Linked DNA regions of Homo sapiens. The protein of the gene in region 3 interacts with the protein of the main gene of each other region in a pairwise test. Each region holds a gene or a part of one and is shown on either strand. Other genes may lie near its edges.

What was found.
Region 1: the proteins of NEFM (region 3) and DSCAM interact in a two-hybrid assay, tested with the Homo sapiens proteins (one large-scale study listed by BioGRID and IntAct).
Region 2: the proteins of NEFM (region 3) and SMAD2 interact in binary tests that used the Homo sapiens proteins (3 or more experiments, as listed by UniProt).
Region 4: the proteins of NEFM (region 3) and ITSN1 interact in a two-hybrid assay, tested with the Homo sapiens proteins (one large-scale study listed by BioGRID and IntAct).
Region 5: the proteins of NEFM (region 3) and TNIK interact in a two-hybrid assay, tested with the Homo sapiens proteins (2 studies listed by BioGRID and IntAct).

What each region holds. Positions count from the first base shown.
Region 1 is NC_000021.9:40,011,140-40,014,660, forward strand, and holds part of DSCAM (cell adhesion molecule DSCAM isoform CHD2-42 precursor), read right to left. Parts: intron 2,248-3,521; coding exon 1,895-2,247; 3' UTR 1-1,894. UniProt on the Homo sapiens protein: Cell adhesion molecule that plays a role in neuronal self-avoidance. Promotes repulsion between specific neuronal processes of either the same cell or the same subtype of cells.
Region 2 is NC_000018.10:47,920,649-47,924,169, forward strand, and holds part of SMAD2 (mothers against decapentaplegic homolog 2), read right to left. Parts: intron 1-3,521. UniProt on the Homo sapiens protein: Receptor-regulated SMAD (R-SMAD) that is an intracellular signal transducer and transcriptional modulator activated by TGF-beta (transforming growth factor) and activin type 1 receptor kinases.
Region 3 is NC_000008.11:24,916,757-24,919,610, reverse strand, and holds the end of NEFM (neurofilament medium polypeptide), read right to left. Parts: intron 2,551-2,854; coding exon 1,005-2,550; 3' UTR 518-1,004; downstream 1-517. UniProt on the Homo sapiens protein: Neurofilaments usually contain three intermediate filament proteins: NEFL, NEFM, and NEFH which are involved in the maintenance of neuronal caliber.
Region 4 is NC_000021.9:33,648,997-33,652,517, reverse strand, and holds part of ITSN1 (intersectin-1), read right to left. Parts: intron 1-3,521. UniProt on the Homo sapiens protein: Adapter protein that provides a link between the endocytic membrane traffic and the actin assembly machinery. Acts as a guanine nucleotide exchange factor (GEF) for CDC42, and thereby stimulates actin nucleation mediated by WASL and the ARP2/3 complex.
Region 5 is NC_000003.12:171,058,394-171,061,914, reverse strand, and holds the end of TNIK (TRAF2 and NCK-interacting protein kinase), read left to right. Parts: 3' UTR 1-3,501; downstream 3,502-3,521. UniProt on the Homo sapiens protein: Serine/threonine kinase that acts as an essential activator of the Wnt signaling pathway. Recruited to promoters of Wnt target genes and required to activate their expression. May act by phosphorylating TCF4/TCF7L2.

The DNA.
Region 1 (3,521 bases), on a different chromosome or scaffold from region 3:
GCATAAAAAAAAAACAGTCTGAGAGTATGCAAACAGTACACGTCAACACGGATTACATTCTGAAACCATGGATGCACACCTCACATTCCTGGAGTCATCTAACACTAGCATCAGCAGGTGGTCTTGACATGGTCCTGGACCCATTCTGTGTCACTGAATCTAAGCAGACAAATGGGCCTGCCTGGAAAATAAATAGAAGGAAGAAAGGATGGGAAAGAAGGAGGGAGGGAGGGAAGGAAAGACATTTCTGAATATGTTCCCAAGATGGTAATAACTGGCACCAGTCTATGTTGGTGGCCTTAATGGAAGCCTGTAGAGAATCTTCAGCCTGGGAGACTGAGCAGCTGTGGATATTTGATCATGTTTTCTGGTTAATGCCAAATCTCTGACACAAAGACCTGTTTATCTTTCCATTTTATGGAAGTGAGCCTGGAATGGAGTGTTGCAGCCAGGGGAGGATTACATCCTCTTTCATAAAGCAAACCCTGTGAGGGTTGTGGGATAAAGAATGCAGTTCCGACTATTTATGAGTAAATTCTCTCTTAGGATGAGCCACATGGGAGATAAAGTGAGGGAAAGGAAAGTAAAAACTTAGATTTTAGAGGAACATCACTTTCCTCTGGTTACAGAGGATTCAGGCAATGTTTATTAAGATGGTCTATCACAAATTTGCATACCAGGCATAGTGGAGATAGGAAAAGTCATGGAGGGTAAGATGCACGATCTTGCCCCTTGTCACGCAAGCTGGGGCTACATTTCAGACTCCAGAGCACGGGTCTGGCAAATGTTTCCTGTAATGGGCCAGGTAATAAATATTTTAGGCTTCATGGGCTATACCATCTCTGCTGCAACTATTCAGCTCTACCATTGTGCCATGAAAGCAGCCATAGACAATAGCAAATAGTGCATGTGGCCTTGTTTCAATAAAACTTTATTTAAAAAACAGCAGGAGGCTGGATTTGGCCCATAGGCCACAGTCAGTTGAACTCTGGCCATGGGCAGGCAAGGGGCAGAGCTTTGCGACGGGCTTCGAATACTTGGGCTGGCCTCTGGTTGCGGTGGAGACCAGCCTGCATTTTGTCCTCTCCAGCTTGAGAGCAGGAGCTGCACCTTCTTTGTGCTTCCTGGAGATTCCTGAGGAGTTCAGGGTGTTAGTATCGACTCTGGTTTATTGAATTGGGCTCTGGGTTCAGGCCTGGTGTTTCCAAACAGAAGTGTCAATGGGAAGGAGGACCAGGCCACTGGCAGAAGACGAGAGAAGCAGACATGGAAATAAAGGCAGACAACCTTTTCTTTTTTATTTCGCTTAGACAAAATGCAAAGAGTGTCTCATTAAATTAAAAAAGAAACAAGAGAGAAAACCAAATTGATTCCCCCCACCCCTTCACTGACGGCACTCATCCTAATTAACAACAAAAGAAGACCAAATTGAGAACCCGGTTTCTAATGGGAAAGAAAGGTGTGCAAACGTGACTGAAGTTTTCCCCTGCCCGCAAATCGGTGTTCCTTTTAAATTCACAAATAGGCTGATTTCCCACCCACCCTGTTTTCTTTCTTGCCTCTTGTGTGATAGAACTTCCAGTCAGAAGGTTTAATTAATCCCCCCCATGCACTTTTGTAGAAAATCAGTAAAAATGCAATAGCCTGTGAAGATCATAAAACTGGACTTCTTTCCCAAAAAATCAGATGCCCAGGCGGATGGAGCTCACACTCAGACAGAAAAAAAGCAGGAGAGTCTTTGCACTGTCTGTGGTTTCAGTATTTTCTCTTTTTTTTTTTTAATATATTTTGGCAATTTTCTTTAATTATAAATATTGGAATTCCGTAAAAAAAAGGTAGCTTTGATTGAATTGTTTGAATTGTATTTACAACCGCTGTCCAGTCATGCTGTCTGTTATACCAGGGTGTAAGATTTTGCGTAAGGATTGTTTCCTTTCAAATGGCCCCGGGAGTCGAGCAGTGATTCTTGGGAGCTGCTCATTTTAGCTGCCTGTCCCAGCTCTGCTCCCTCCCGCTGAGGTAATGTGGCCACGGCCCCCGGCTGCCACGACTGTCCTTCTCTCGTGGAGGAGGCGGAGGAGGCGGCTTCCATCGGGATGGGCTCCAGGACCGTGGGGCGCTTCAGGGTCCGGCTTTTCTGAGGTTCCAAGCATGCTTGTCCTAAGCTCAGGTCCCTGCTGGTGCCTGGACCACCTCGGTTTAACAAAAAGTCCATTCTAAGGTATGGAGGCAAATGTATGAGGTCACCTAGAAGGAAAGACAGGGTAGTTAGTTGGTGTCTTCATTTGGTAAACATGGGCAGAATGTCCTGTGTGCACACGGGAAGCCATGCGGGCTTTAGAGATGAGAATGCCGCTGCACACAGGTGCCTTTCTCAAGATCCTCCTTCAGCGCTCACCACAAAGACAGGTGGAATCGTCCTCCTACCTCCTCCCTGGGCGCGGGAGGAGCTCATTTTCCTACAGTACTTACTTACTTGTATTAACTTACTTGTACAGAAATGGAGGAATGGAGGTAACAGAATCCTTCAACACACCATCGTTGAAAGAAAAACATACATCAAAGGCATCAGTGTCCACTGGGTACGAACGGTGATAGACCAAACCCCGCATGTGATTGGAAGTACAGGGAGAGCACAGGGTTTGAGGAGAGAGCCAGGGACGCCAAGCGAAGATGGACAGCTGGCTCTCGTCCTGGCAATTCTATGAAACCTTGTGACCTTGGCCAGCCACTTAGTTATGGGTCTTCATGATGGCTTTGGGTGAAAGCGCCACAGCTTATGGCCTTCTTACCAGGCCCTGCCTACCTGCTAACTTCTGCGTGGCTCTTCTGTTTCAGCCATGCTGTGTATAGAGATGACAGCAGCTTAGACCAGAATTCTAGTGTTTCTACTTCCTGCTTATGGTCACTCTGGCTTCTGTGGTGCCACGCAAACATAACCTCAGGTCTCCTTCAAGAGCATCTGCTGGCTGGGCACGGTGTGCCTCATGCCTGTAATCCTAGAACTTCGGGAGGCCGAGGCGGAAGGATCACCTGAGGTCAGGAGTTCAAGACCAGCCAGGCCAACATGGCAAAACCCCCTCTCTACTAAAAATACAAAAACTAGCCAAGCATGATGGTGGGCGCCTGTAGTCCCAGTACTGGGGACACTGAGGCAGGAGAATCGCTTGAACCCGGGAGGAGGAGGTTGCAGTGAGCTGAGATTATGCCACTGCACTCCAGCCTGGGTGACAGAGCAAGACTCAAACAAAACAAAACAAAACAAAACAAAACAAACAAAAAACCCAAACCAAAACAAAAAAACCAAGAGCATCTGCTGCAGGAAGGGAGGCATGTGTTCTCTGGGATGCTGCAAGCCAATGACAAGCGTGACAGGGCTTTTCTCATGGCCGTCCCCGCCCGATGCAGGATCTCCCTAACAGGCATCCTTTGCTCAGGGATACCCCATCAGCCTCACTGCAGCCTTCTCAGAAGTGCACCGCAGCCTGACGTGCCTCCAACCAATCCCTCCTTCGCCTTCT
Region 2 (3,521 bases), on a different chromosome or scaffold from region 3:
TTTATACCATGTGCATGTGTTATTCGAAAAAATGAATAAAGTACATTCTCTAAAATAAATTACAAATGTAGATATTCTTTGAACTACTCCTAGAAATCTATCTTACAGACATACCTGCAAAGGAGCAAAATGCTATATAAACGAAGTTATTTGTTGTAGCATTGTTTTTAATACCACAAGACTGGAAACATTCAACAGAGGACTGATGATATATTCAGACACCCGGCCAGGCACAGTGGCTTACGCCTGTAATCCCAAAACTTTGAGGGGCCGTGGCAGGCAAATCGCTTGAGCCCAGGAGTTCAAGACAAATCTAGGCAACATGGCGAAACCCCACCTCTACAAAAAATTTTAAAAATTAGCTGGATATGGTAGGCATGCGCCTGCAGTCCCAACTACTCAGGTAGCTGAGGTGGGAGATTAACTTGACCCCTGGCAGTCAAGGTTGCAGTGAGCTGTGATCACACCACTGCACTCCAGCCTGGGTGACAGAGTGAGACACTGTCTCAAAAAAAAATTTACAGACACCCATACAAAAGAATATTATACAACCCACTACTCCAAAAAAGAAGAAAGGCATTCATTACATACTGACACAAAATAAGATGTACTATTAAGTGACATATGTGACCACTTGTACTAAAAGGTAATATACACACAAAATTGTTCATAGATGCATAAAATCTCTGGAACACCACACAAAAACCTAGTAAAGCTACTTGCCTTTGAAAAGGCAACTGTATGGCAAAGAACAGACCAGTAAAGAGACTCTTCACTGGGTATCCCTGAATTTTGGATTGCAGTCATGGATTATGTATACAAAAATTCACTATTCCACATGCAGCTGTAGATGTTTTCATGTACCCTGCCTTGCCTTGCTGTGATATTAAAGTCCATCTAAAGCCTACTGTTTTTCCAGTTCCTCCATAGAGAGGTCTGAGGCTTCTTTCTCCAAGAAGCCCCAGATGTTTCAATGATACCAGAACACTTTTCATTTTTTAATTTTTTTAAGCACACAGTTCCCACAGTTCTGTCTCCTTTCATTGAATGGCATTATAACCTCAGCCCCAACTACTGAATCTTATCTCTAGTAAATCCCCCAAGGCCACACTTCCCTTAAAGTTGACTGATTTTTCTAAGTTTCTAGTACCTGGGCACTTTCTCTCTCAAGATCAACTGTATACATAAGAGAAAACTTTTATATTTTATCCAACATTTTCATCTGTTTACAGTAAGAAGAATGGGCCTAACTTGTGTCTGTGTCATTTTAAGAAATTTAGATAAAGACAGTATAAACAATAACAGCAAACACTGAAGAAAGTATGATCACTGAGAAAAGACTGCTAAACTTGACAGTTCATCCGGAAGGCCAGTAGGAAGGGAAATGTGAAAAAGAATGGTTAAAAAATATGTTTGCAAAGTTGAAGTCAAGAACAGATAGTGATTAAATGTAGAAAGCAAAAGTAGATTGCACTTTTAAAAGGTATGGAGGGAAGAGAAATTTCAAATCTTCAAACTGCAGGAAAATACAAAATATTCCCCAAATACCTATGTGAATTTTTATTTAGAAAGAAAACCAAAGTTAATTATTTCAACAAAAATACTTTAAATATGATGGTGCTGCCTCATCTAGAACATCTAAGGTCCCACTAGAAATAATATAAAATCACTGTGCAGTCAATCCTCCTTATCTGTGGGTTCCAAATACATGGATTAAACCAACCATGGATAAAAAATATTCAGGAAAAAACTGTGACTGTACTGAACATGTACAGACTTTTTTCTCATCATTTCTAAAACAATATAGAATAACAACTATTTACATTGTATTAGATATTAAGTAATCTAGAGAGGATTTAAAGAATAACAATAAAATGTGCATAAAACAAATTCTACACCATTTTATACAAGGGACTTCAGCGTTCTCATATTCTGGTGCTTGCAGGAGAGTCCCGGAACCAATCCTCTGTGGAGACCGAGATTTTTAGCAATCTATGTTCAAACATACTACAAGGCAGAGAAAAAAACAGCAGCATCAATGACCTGGAATTGTATAACTGTTTTAGTCAAATAAATAATTCATTAGTAACCAGGATAATAGAAAACCTCAAAAAAATTAAAATACATAAAACCCAATTTTTTAAAAACAGATTTTTCAATTCTCACTACAACTATGTTCTCTCCAAAGCGTAAGCTAGTAAGGAAAGACACTGCCAACTGGAAACCTAGGTCGGCCCCCATGGAGAATGATGGGTCATGTCTTTTAAACAAAAGCAAACAGAAAACATTCATGTGTTCAACTTTATGGACTGTCAAACCTAATGCAAGCTTGAATTTAATTCAAGAAAATTATTATTTTAGCAAAAGTCCACATTAAATAGGGACTGCTGTGTAAAGAGACTACTTATTTTTTTTTTTTTAACTAAGAGTTATATTCCTATCACCTATAATGAGTTTTGTGGAATCCACAACTCTATAATCAACTTGTAAACACGTAACTTACATATTGGTTTATCATTCCCAGATTATTAAAAAAAAAAAAAAAGCACCTATGACAACACTACACAGGCCCAGACTCAAATCAGCACAAATATAAAGTACAAGTACTCTAATTGCTCTTCAAATTCCCAAAGTCTATCCTGACCCTCTTCTGAAGCAGCAACTAATACCACGTCAATTCACGTGAGTGGGGTCCTCAGGCCATAAAAGCTCAATTAAAGCAAAGTCTAGAGTAGTGCCACCCAACACAACTTTATACAATGATGTAAATGTCCTTGGGTATCTGTGCTGTCTAATACAGTAGCCATCAGCTGCATATGGCTATCTAAATTTAGATTAAGTAAAATTTAACATTCAGTTTCTCAGTCACAGCAGCCACATTTCAAGTGCTAAATAGCCACATGTGGCTGGCAGCTACCTGTTAAGATAGAGCAGGTCTACAGCAAAAATTTCTCCAAGACCTACTGTTCTTCAGCTGTGCTTCAAAGGCTTCCTGGTGGTGAGGATGAGAGGAAAACTGATCAGGCAGGACTTCAACAACTGCCTATTCTTCCTTCCACAAAACAGCTTTACTCCTTTTATCTGTTTTACATTTCGAAATTCTGCATATTTCTCTCTAAAGGCTTTCTAGTTGCTGCTGTGTGTGCAGGTGTGCACATGTTTTAAGTCTGACTACTACTGGTTTCGAGCAGAAATGGCCAATGCACAACCTCAGGCCAAAGCTGGACCCTCCTGATAACTAAAACATTTTTTAAAAAAAAGTTTAATTGATCAGCTAACATGAACTACAACCTAACTACCTGTCTATTAAGAATTTTAGGCCGGGCGCAGTGGCTCACGCATGTAATCCCAACACTTTGGGAGGCCAAGGTGGGCGAATCACCTGAGGTCAGGAGTTCGAGACCAGCCTGACCAACATGGTGAAACCCCGTTTCTATTAAAAATACAAAATTAGCCGGACATGGTGGCGCATGCCTGTAATCCTAGCTACTCAGGAGGCTGAGGCAGGAGAACTGCTTGAA
Region 3 (2,854 bases):
TCTCTGTCCCAACTCCAAGGCACAAGTTATGAACCCCTCCTTTATTGGTCCTCTTACCTAGAGGTTCTGAGTTCTGTTTTGGGATAGAAACAAACACTGAAGATTTCTATCCCACCAGATTCCTATTTGTATCTGATGCTTTTATTTTTATTTCAAAAATATGATTTTAAAATTTTGGGATGAAGACCGGGCTCGGTGAAGATGTTGACACCTGAAAATATCTTCAGCAATTACGTTTTCCAAGTAATTGCTGTCAGGGAAATAGCAATAAGATGTGCAGTTTACTTATGATTCCCCCCAATAATCTATTTCAGGGCAAGAAAGCTTCAGGTAGTGGAGATTTCACTTTGAAATGGCATAACAGGCTGGGCGTGGTGGCTCATGCCTGTAATCCCAGCACTTTGGGTGGCTGAGGTGGGAGGACTGCTTGAGGCCACATAGCAAGACCCCATCTCTAAATAAAAATAAATAAATAAAAATTAGAAAAAGAGAAATGACATAAGACTCAGCAATTGACTATGTTTCCAATATGACCTTTATTGAGCAAGTACTGCTGTGACGTTTAACATCGATCAACATAAGATTGCAAACTGTGCATGTCAACGAGGTTCTCCCATGAACAAAAGTCCATTTTAAATGCACCAGTGAGGTAAACATAATTATTCATATATAGCTTTCTTAAGGCTGAGTTCTGTGTTTCGTTTATTGTTTTTGGCTCAGTTGGTACTTTGCATAATACATCTCAAGACATCCCCCCTTAAGTGACCCCCTTCCAACAGCTTAGGAAATCGGCAAATTTCCCAGGTACATACAATATCATGCATTTGAATCCCCCAAAGACTGAGGAGGGAGCACCCTGAGCTTGCATGCAGTCCCCTCATATTGCACAAAGTAAAATACAATGTCTGGAGCCCCCATGGGAGAACCCGTTCTGTTTTGAAGCTGCCAATCACATGCATTTTGAAATTGTCATATGGCTTAACCTTTTGCAATGGACTCAAATCTTAGTCACTCTGGGTGACTTCCTTTACTATGGCGTGTGAAGTGACTTTTTCTACCTTTTTAGTAGACACTAGTTTCTCCTCAAAGGTCTCTTCATGCTCTTCAACCTTTTGAGTGACGGTTACAGATTTAGTGATGTATTTGGTAGCACCATCTCCCCCCTCACTGGTGATTTTTTCTACCGTTTTGGTCACCACCACTTTCTCCTCACTTTTATCACCCCCCTTCTTTTCATCTGCTGGGCTCAAGTCTAGGCCATTGGTGACAACGCCTTTCTCCTCTTCCCTCCCACTGCCTTTTTCCTTGGTCTCCTGCTCTACCTCCTCTTTTCCTTCTACCTCCCCATTGACAGCTATGTCTTCCTTCCTGGATCCCTTGGCACCTTTATCACTCCCTTCCTCCTCACTTCCTCCCTCTCCTCCCGCTTTCTCCTTCTCTTTCTCCTGCTGCAGTGGCTTCCCCTCTTCTTTGGTCTCTTTCTCCAAGTGCACCTTTACCGATTTGGTGATGGTGACCACCTCTGCCACAGCTTCCTCCTTTACAGGGGACTCAGCTTTCTTCTTCTCTGGCACATCCTTTGGTTTCTCTTCCTTTTTCTCTACCTTCTCTTCCTTGGGAGCTTCCTTGACTTCCTTTTCTTCTTCCTCTTTCTGTTCACCTTTCCCCACTTCTGCTTTTGACTTTGCCTCTTCCACTGGTGATTTTGGCACAGGAGATTTGGCTTTCTCTTCCACTGGTGATTTTGACACAGGAGACTTGCCTTTCTCTTCCACTGGTGATTTCGGCACAGGAGACTTGCCTTTCTCTTCCACTGGTGACTTGGGCACAGGAGACTTGCCTTTCTCTTCCACTGGTGACTTGGGCACAGGAGACTTGCCTTTCTCTTCCACTGGTGATTTTGGCACAGGAGACTTGGCTTTTTCTGGCTTTTCCACCTTGGCATCTGCCACCAGCTCCTCCTTGGTAGCCACTTCCTCACTCTTTTCCTCCACTTTCTTTTCCTCTTTAGCTTCGGCTTCCTCTCCTTCAGCTTCAGCTTCTGTTTCTCCTTCTTCCTGCTCACCTTCCTCTTTTTCACTAGAGCCTTCCTTCTCGGATCCTCCCTCTTCGGCTTGGTCTGACTTAGCTCCCTCATCTTCTTCCTCCTCTTCTTCCTGGCCTTCTTCTTCCTCCTTTTCCCCTTCCTCTTCTTTAACTTCAGGTGCAGTTGCTTTCACTGGAGACTTTTTGGCAGCTACTTCTTCTTCTTCAGCTTCGGGTTCCTCTTCCTTTTCTTCTGCTGCTTCTTTCTTCTCTTCCTTCATGGAAACGGCCAATTCCTCTGTAATGGCTGTCAGGGCCTCTTCCATTTCTGACTTCTCATCCTCCACTTTGGTTTCCTCTATGATCTCCTCGACAAATTTGTGTTGGACCTTAAGCTTGGGAGCTTCCACCTTGGGTTTCTGAATCTTACTGGATATTGTGATTGGGGGTCGGTGTGTATACAGTGGCCCAGTGATGCTTCCTGCAAATGTGCTAAATCTAGTCTCTTCACCCTCCAGGAGTTTTCTAAGGAGAAAATCCAAGAACATAAGACATAGTAAAAATTTCACTAGGCCTTCTGAGCTTCATTACATTCTGGGTATTGTGGTAGCTACCTTTGAATAAATAGAATTACATAAGTAGAATATTCTATGAATTCACTATAATACCTGCTATCACTTACTGGCATATTACATTATACTCAGTGACAGAGAAAGATTCTCCTGGACTGCCAGACAGTTGCCCCCTACAATGACTAACCTTGCCCAATAGTCCACTAACCACACCCAGCTACTAAGTCTTGGCCCTGCAGTAGAGATCCATTAGGTAC
Region 4 (3,521 bases), on a different chromosome or scaffold from region 3:
AGGTCCAGCAATAAGTGACTGATTACATATATGACGATGTAGCAAAAAAGGCTGCAAATACAACACATTAAGTGAAAAACACAGGCTACAAAACTGTACGTACCTGAGGCTACAAACTGGCAAGGCAACGAAGACTGAATCCAGCCCTCAGGTATGCTTTGAACCCCAGTGTGTTAACAATAAAAAGTGTGGCCCACATAAAAATCAGAAGATTTCATATTAAACCCACATTCTCCTAAATAACTATAAGGTGTAGTAACACCAGGACGCATCCTCCCAGAACCACAAAGGTCTGGGTTGACTGGCCCTGGACCGTCCTGCCACCTTCAGTGCTCGTGGTCCCTAACAGGCCTTCAACTCTCCCGGGCTAAGTAGCTTCACACCAGGCACCTGCTGGGTAATTTGAGCATGTTGACCTTCACAGGGTATTAACAGTCATTATCACTGGATGGTAAGATCTTGGTAGGCTTTTAGTCTTCTTTCCTTATATATGTTTCCAAAAGTTTTCTTCAATAAACATGTATTCCTTTTGTAGTAGGAAAAAACATGTTATTTTTTAAATTACCAAATCACAACTGTAATATTAATCACTTCATCTACCAAGATCAAAACAACTAAAGATAACAGATAATGACTGTGGTTTAAAACTAATTGAACTAAGAATTAAAGTAAGGTTACGATTACTGCAGGATTTCCCTCCCTTTGATACTAATTAAAACTCCAGATTGGACAGACAACAGCAGCATTTTACAAAACAGATCTTCCTCAAAGAGAACAGCTTCTATAGACAATGCAAAAGCCTGCTATTTTAAGGATTCATTCCCATACATTTAAGATTTCTTTCACTAAAAAAAGGAAACAAAATCTCTCCTATAGAAACCTATATTCATAACCTCAATTAATTTGTTTATAAAGCTAAATAATTCTTGATCTTTGTCTTACACTGCTATTTCATTTGATCAATAGTAATAATTTTATGGGGTTCTCTTTTCCTCAGAGAAACTCCGGAAAGTTTACACAAATTACCATTCATCTCAAACCATTCCTGAGACCTCACAAAGTACACCACATTATCCTCATCACAAAGATAAAGCAGAAGGCTAGGTAGAAACGTCAACATCCATAGACAGCTGGAAGCCGAGTCAATGGAATGTTCCTCTCTATCCATCCTCCAATCCACTCCCACATGATACTCAGAAGGAGATTTTTAAACAAAAGCACATCATGGGACTCCCCTGCTTAAAACTTACATTAACTTCCTACTTCCCAGACATTCAGAGTCAAGTCCCAAGTGGGCCTCTCTCCTTCACTCCCCACCTGTCTCTCTTGCCCCCAGCACTTGCTCTGTACCAGCTCAGAGCCCTCGGGCCTCCAGGCTTGAAGGACCTCAAACACTCCTTGATTTAATAAACCAACAAATAACCCTTGCGTGTCTGCCAGGCAGCAGGCGCTGCTCTAGGGCCTGGGGCTAGCCCCCTGGACAACAGCGATACACTCCCTGCCCTCATGGAGCTAACATCCTGGTAACCCCGCTACCAAGTTTCTTCCTCCTGTAATCATTTAAAGAATATTAAAACAACAATTGTAATAACTGTATCTGAAGGGGTCTAAAAATAAGCAGTGCTACCTATAATACAGATCTATTCTCATTTAATGACTTTAATATTAGCTCTTTATATTAAGTGCAGGAAAGAGGAAAAATAAAGGCAAAGGGAACTACTATTCATTGAAATCTGCTATATACCAAGAATGGCACTCATTTTCTTGTCAATTTTTCAAGGTTTCTCTCATTACTAGCTATATAGCTTTCATTCATCAGTGGCCAAAATGCAATTCTCCAATTCTGCAAGACTGGGGCAGCTGAGTTTCAGATAACTTCAGAAATTGAAAGATAACTTGGTTTTAAAATCTACTATCTTAAGTTCAGAGCGGAAATGAATTGATTTTTGTGAAACACTGGATCCACAATGAACACTCCTATTATAGATAACACACTGGAATGATATATGTGTTTACACAACATTTTGTCTGTGTTAGAACAATAAAACCGGTCAGGAAATTTGCCTTGCAGAGAAGTAATTAACCCTGTACACACACACAGGCAAACAGACACACACACACAAAACGAATGGCTCCAATTCGTTGGAGCTCCAATTCCAATCTTGTTGCAGTGCTTTTATGGTAAGAGTCAGCGTCCTTCTTAACTAGGTTGGTTAAAGCCTGACACTAAAAGCCAGCTGACCTCGTCCACGTCCATGAACTGTATCCATGTCTTGCAAATGCATGCCACCAGACACCAGAACGATTTGCAGACATAATGCAAGGAGGAACACATCAAATGCTCACCAGTGCAACAGAGGAGCAAGAGCATTGTCCTCCTGTATTAAAAAGAGGATGTTTAATTTTAACCACCAAGGGTAAAATTCTGACCACTTGCTGTGTTGCTATGACCTTGTTATTTTCTTTCTTTCTTTTTTTTTTTTTTTTCTGAGACAGAGTCTCGCTCTGTCGCCAAGGCTGGAGTGTAATGGTGCGATGTCAGCTCACTGAAATCTCCACCTCCTGGGTTCAAGCAGGGAATTGAAGCAATTCTCCTGCTTCAGCCTCCCAAGTAGCTGGGATTACACTTGTGCGCCACCACGCCCGCCTAATTTTTGTATTTTTTAGTAGAGATGGGGTTTCACCATGTTGGCCAGGCTGGTCTCAAACTCCTGACCTCATGATCCGCACACCTCGGCCTCTCAAAGTGCTGGGATTACAGGTGTGAGCCACCACGCCCGGCCAGACATTGTTATTTTCACATTCGAATTCACTTGAATTCAAAATTCTGCCACAGCCCTCAGCTCAACTCCTGGCTCCACCACTCAATGAAGGGCCAAACGCACTACCACATGACTCCAGCAGACCCCATACCACACAAAAACAATGACAGGTTTTGGTGACCAACTGAAAACTGAGCTAGGCAGCCAAACTCAGTCCAGAGAGCTGAAGCCAAAACAATTTCACCAATGTTCTCTCTGGGCAGTAAGCTAATAAAGCAAGCTACCTATCATTAATTCTACTAGAAAAACACCGAAAGAGCAGTGATGCATTAAAATAGATTAACTTGCTTAAAATTCACTTTCTTAGAGAGCTACGAACTTTAGGAACAAAACTGGAGTGACATTCTACCATCCCATGTATTAATAAAAATGTTTTGGTTTACTTTTCAGTGATCTCCCAGTGGATGATATCTCTCTACACTGAGGCCTTCACATTCAGGAAGCAAACTTCCTTAGGCCACTTTCTATCTCCAAAGTGGCCAACATTCACATTCAGGAAGTAAACTTCCTTAGGCCACTTTCTATCTCCAAACTCGCCAACATGGAACTACCTGGACACACACACCCAGCTGTCTCCCTCATCACACTTCTGTACAGTCTTGCGTTTCTAAGACAAGTCCACATCACAAGTGAACTGCCTTTTCAAATTTCACTAGTCTTCTCTAGCACTCTAATCCTGTTTTTCATGCAGGGGTACTT
Region 5 (3,521 bases), on a different chromosome or scaffold from region 3:
ATATCCTCCTCATGGTCCCTTTAGCTCTCAAAAGCAATGAAATCCTCCTGTTCTCATTTTTACTGCTGTGGTTGTGCTGCTGAACAATACTATCTTCTCAAATTCCATGCCACAAATTCAGCAATAACTTTTTGGATTGAATTTAACAACTACTGTAATTGGATGCTGATGTGGACAAAATATATTGATTTCGATTTCACTCCCGAATGTGATTGCCACCAGCTCTTTATATTGCTGCTGTGGTATTTTAAACCAGAAGCTTCTTTAAATTATGTTGCAAACTGATCTTTGTTTTTATGTTTTGTTTTGTTTTTATTTCTAAGTGATAAGTTTGAAACACACAGCTTTAAATGATTTTTTTATTGTGGGATTTTGGGTACAGTTAAGAAATAAAAGGGAATCATTGTGTTTAAACATAAGGTAGTTTGTGAATGTATTTTTTAAAATCTAGAGTCATTGAAACAAATCATAAGAAAACAATATTAATGCAGTCTTGTTTACAGTATGTACAGTGACATAACATAGAACATGAGCTTTTCTGGTGCCAACAACAATAAAACACACGTTAAACATCAAGCCATGCCTTTTATATTTTTGTACTAATATTTTACACTGAGTACAAGGCAAATCCAAATTTAAATGGGCCCCCCAGAAATCTGTGCTCTTTAAAAGACAGATATTTAAAGAATTCACTGAAGCTTTTATCTTCAAAAATAAATTTTCCTCCAGCAAGACAGACCCCAGCCCTGACATAAGGAGGCCTAGAACATGCAGAATACGTCAGAATGGTGTCCTTGTGGCTCATCCAAACTTTCTGAATTGCCTTAATTCTTTTTGGGGGTAGGGGAGGAACGGTTGCTTTTCATCCATTTTTATAGCATCTCAACAAAAAAAATCTTCAGTTCTGATCTTTTTATAGGTGATTTTGTCTCTAGAAATTGGCTCATTTTATTTTTATTTTCCTACAAAGAGAAACTGGAGAAACTGAGCCCTCCCCTCAGAGTAAGTTTCACTAGATCTGCCAGTTCTTACTGCTCTAAATTAATAATCATCCAGTAAAATCTACTGAGCCTGCCCACACCATAGTCTGGGTCTGGGGTCTGGCAGGTGACCATCATTCCTGGGTGCCAGTCAAAGATACTGTAGCATGGATTCCTGCATCCAGTGGTGGTAGGAATGGATGACCAGTGAAGTTCCTTCAAATAATGAGGCTCTTCCCCCTGCCAGTTCCAGCCAGACCACTGTCATAACACACAATGCAAATGAAGACAGCCTTCACTAAGTTCCACATAAAATTGAACAGCTCTATTTTAGATAGATCTCATTATTTTTCTTGGAGACTTCTAAACAATCCTTCAAGAAGACCTAGAACTATTATTTTTATTAAACAGGGTATATTAAGTTATGGGTGAAATCTCACAAGGTCACCTGGACAGGGGCTCCATTTTTCTAACACTTTGACATTGTTTTCTAGGGTGCACTCCTAATATACTTTGCATCAAGTACATGTTTTTTAAAAACACCTTAGTTCCTGGTTGTCAAAACCTACTAACAATTTTTGTCTGTTCTTGTGACTCATTGGTAATTGGTGTCTCTGGTCCCTCCTGTCCAGTAGATTATTAGAAAGATGTGAAATTCCAGCCAGAACCATTTTGGTTTTATCCACTGCCAGGAAAGGAAGGGGCTAAAGTCTCACATTCCACGAAGCTTTTAAAAAAATGCTTTCCCTACTACTATGTGTACCAGTTCCCGTCACTGTATTCTTGAAACGTGGAAGAGCTCTTTGTGTTAACAGTGTGTGCTGTCTTTGAAAGTCTGCTTGAACAGGCATCACTTGCATTTGTGCTGATTGCTTTAAGATGTAAGATGTGCTACATTATTTTTAAGAAAAAAAATAGTTATTGATAAAACTTTTAATTTTAACCTACTGCAGGAAAACATGAGAAAATCCACAGCATGCTGATAACAATTCTGAATGATGCTACTATGCTCTTTATATTCCAGAATCACCACTGGTACCATGTTCTGATCATTTCAACAGTCTCTAACTTGTTAGTTACCTTTTAGTTCATTCTTCAAAATTTAAATCTAACCAAATCAAGCAAAACATAACCAACCAACCAAAAACTGACCTCCCCTGAGACTACATAGTTGTAACATAAATCTAAAATCCAAAAGTCTAAATTTGATTTAATTTACCTGCTAATATTTCTCATAAATGCCACTATATCTCCTTGGTCACTATATATCAGGAACCCTAAAGTAAGCTGTCCTTTCATGGATCTTAAATAAATTGGGTGTAAAATTGATCACTTTTCAGGAGTCCCAGCAAAGAAGAAAACCTCTTGAGAATTTGCAAGTTCAAAACTGACAATTTGTATATTCCTACCAAACATTTTCTAGGTTGTTTTTATTTCTACACCATTATTCTGGGAATTCTTCCATTGATAACTAGAATATTCAACAGTTTGCTTAGCATTAAACAGTGTGAGATCATAACCCTGTGCTTTGGACTTTATTCTTCTAGACCTGCCATTCCAGGAAGTGCCAGAATATACCAAAATAAAAATCCCCATAAAAGCATTTTTAAACAAAAATCCCTGGGTAATGTTTGAGTTATTTTAAATCTAGATCAAAATCTTGGATTCTTCTGAGTCCATGATGACAAATGTTTGGATGAAAAGTAGAAAATACAGTTAAAAATAAAAATGTCCTAAAGTTTACAGATTTTTGAGTTTGTGTACATATCTTCAAACTCACTCCTTGCATGATAGGGTTTGGTTTTAATGGTTTATTTTTATCAGCACCAAGTTGCATTGCACTATTGAGGCTGAGCAAATGCTGGTGGAAAGGTGAGTTTTCATTTCTGGCAATGGATCATTATTTGTACACTGTAAATATCATGCCCAGCTACCCCTTTCCCTTATCTCTTCCCCTGGGATAAATGTTAAGGAATAGTAATACTTATTATGGTATGTTTAAGAAACCTTGGACATTACCCTGAATCAAAACTTCAAATGTTAGGTGGCAGCAGGAAACAAAAGATTACAGCTTGAATGAAATTTTAAAATTGAATGTTGTAAAACTATTTTTGAACGTTTTAGCTGCCTTATTTATGTTAATATAACTGTAGAGAGATGCCAAATGTATAATATCAGAAGGGAAAACTACGATTTTGCTGTGCCTACAATTGTTTACATTTTTTAAATCTCCAGTTTTCAAAAGTATTTTAAATTGTCAAACATTTGCTAAAACTGGATTATAACCTCACCTGAGAATGAGAGAAGAAAATCTTCCTGGCATATTTTCCAGTCTGAAACTTTTGGTTACTTTCAGGTATTTTTTTTCTTGCATACAAAAATCATTGAGAAAGTACTTTCTACAGTTATTCTAAGCAGTCATTAAAAATGCTTTGATAGGTTTCCCCACATGGTAACTACCATGTCCTGGAATATAATATGCTATCTTTGTCAAAATATGAATAATAAAACATTAATCGTAGGATGCCTCCTTGTTCCTCA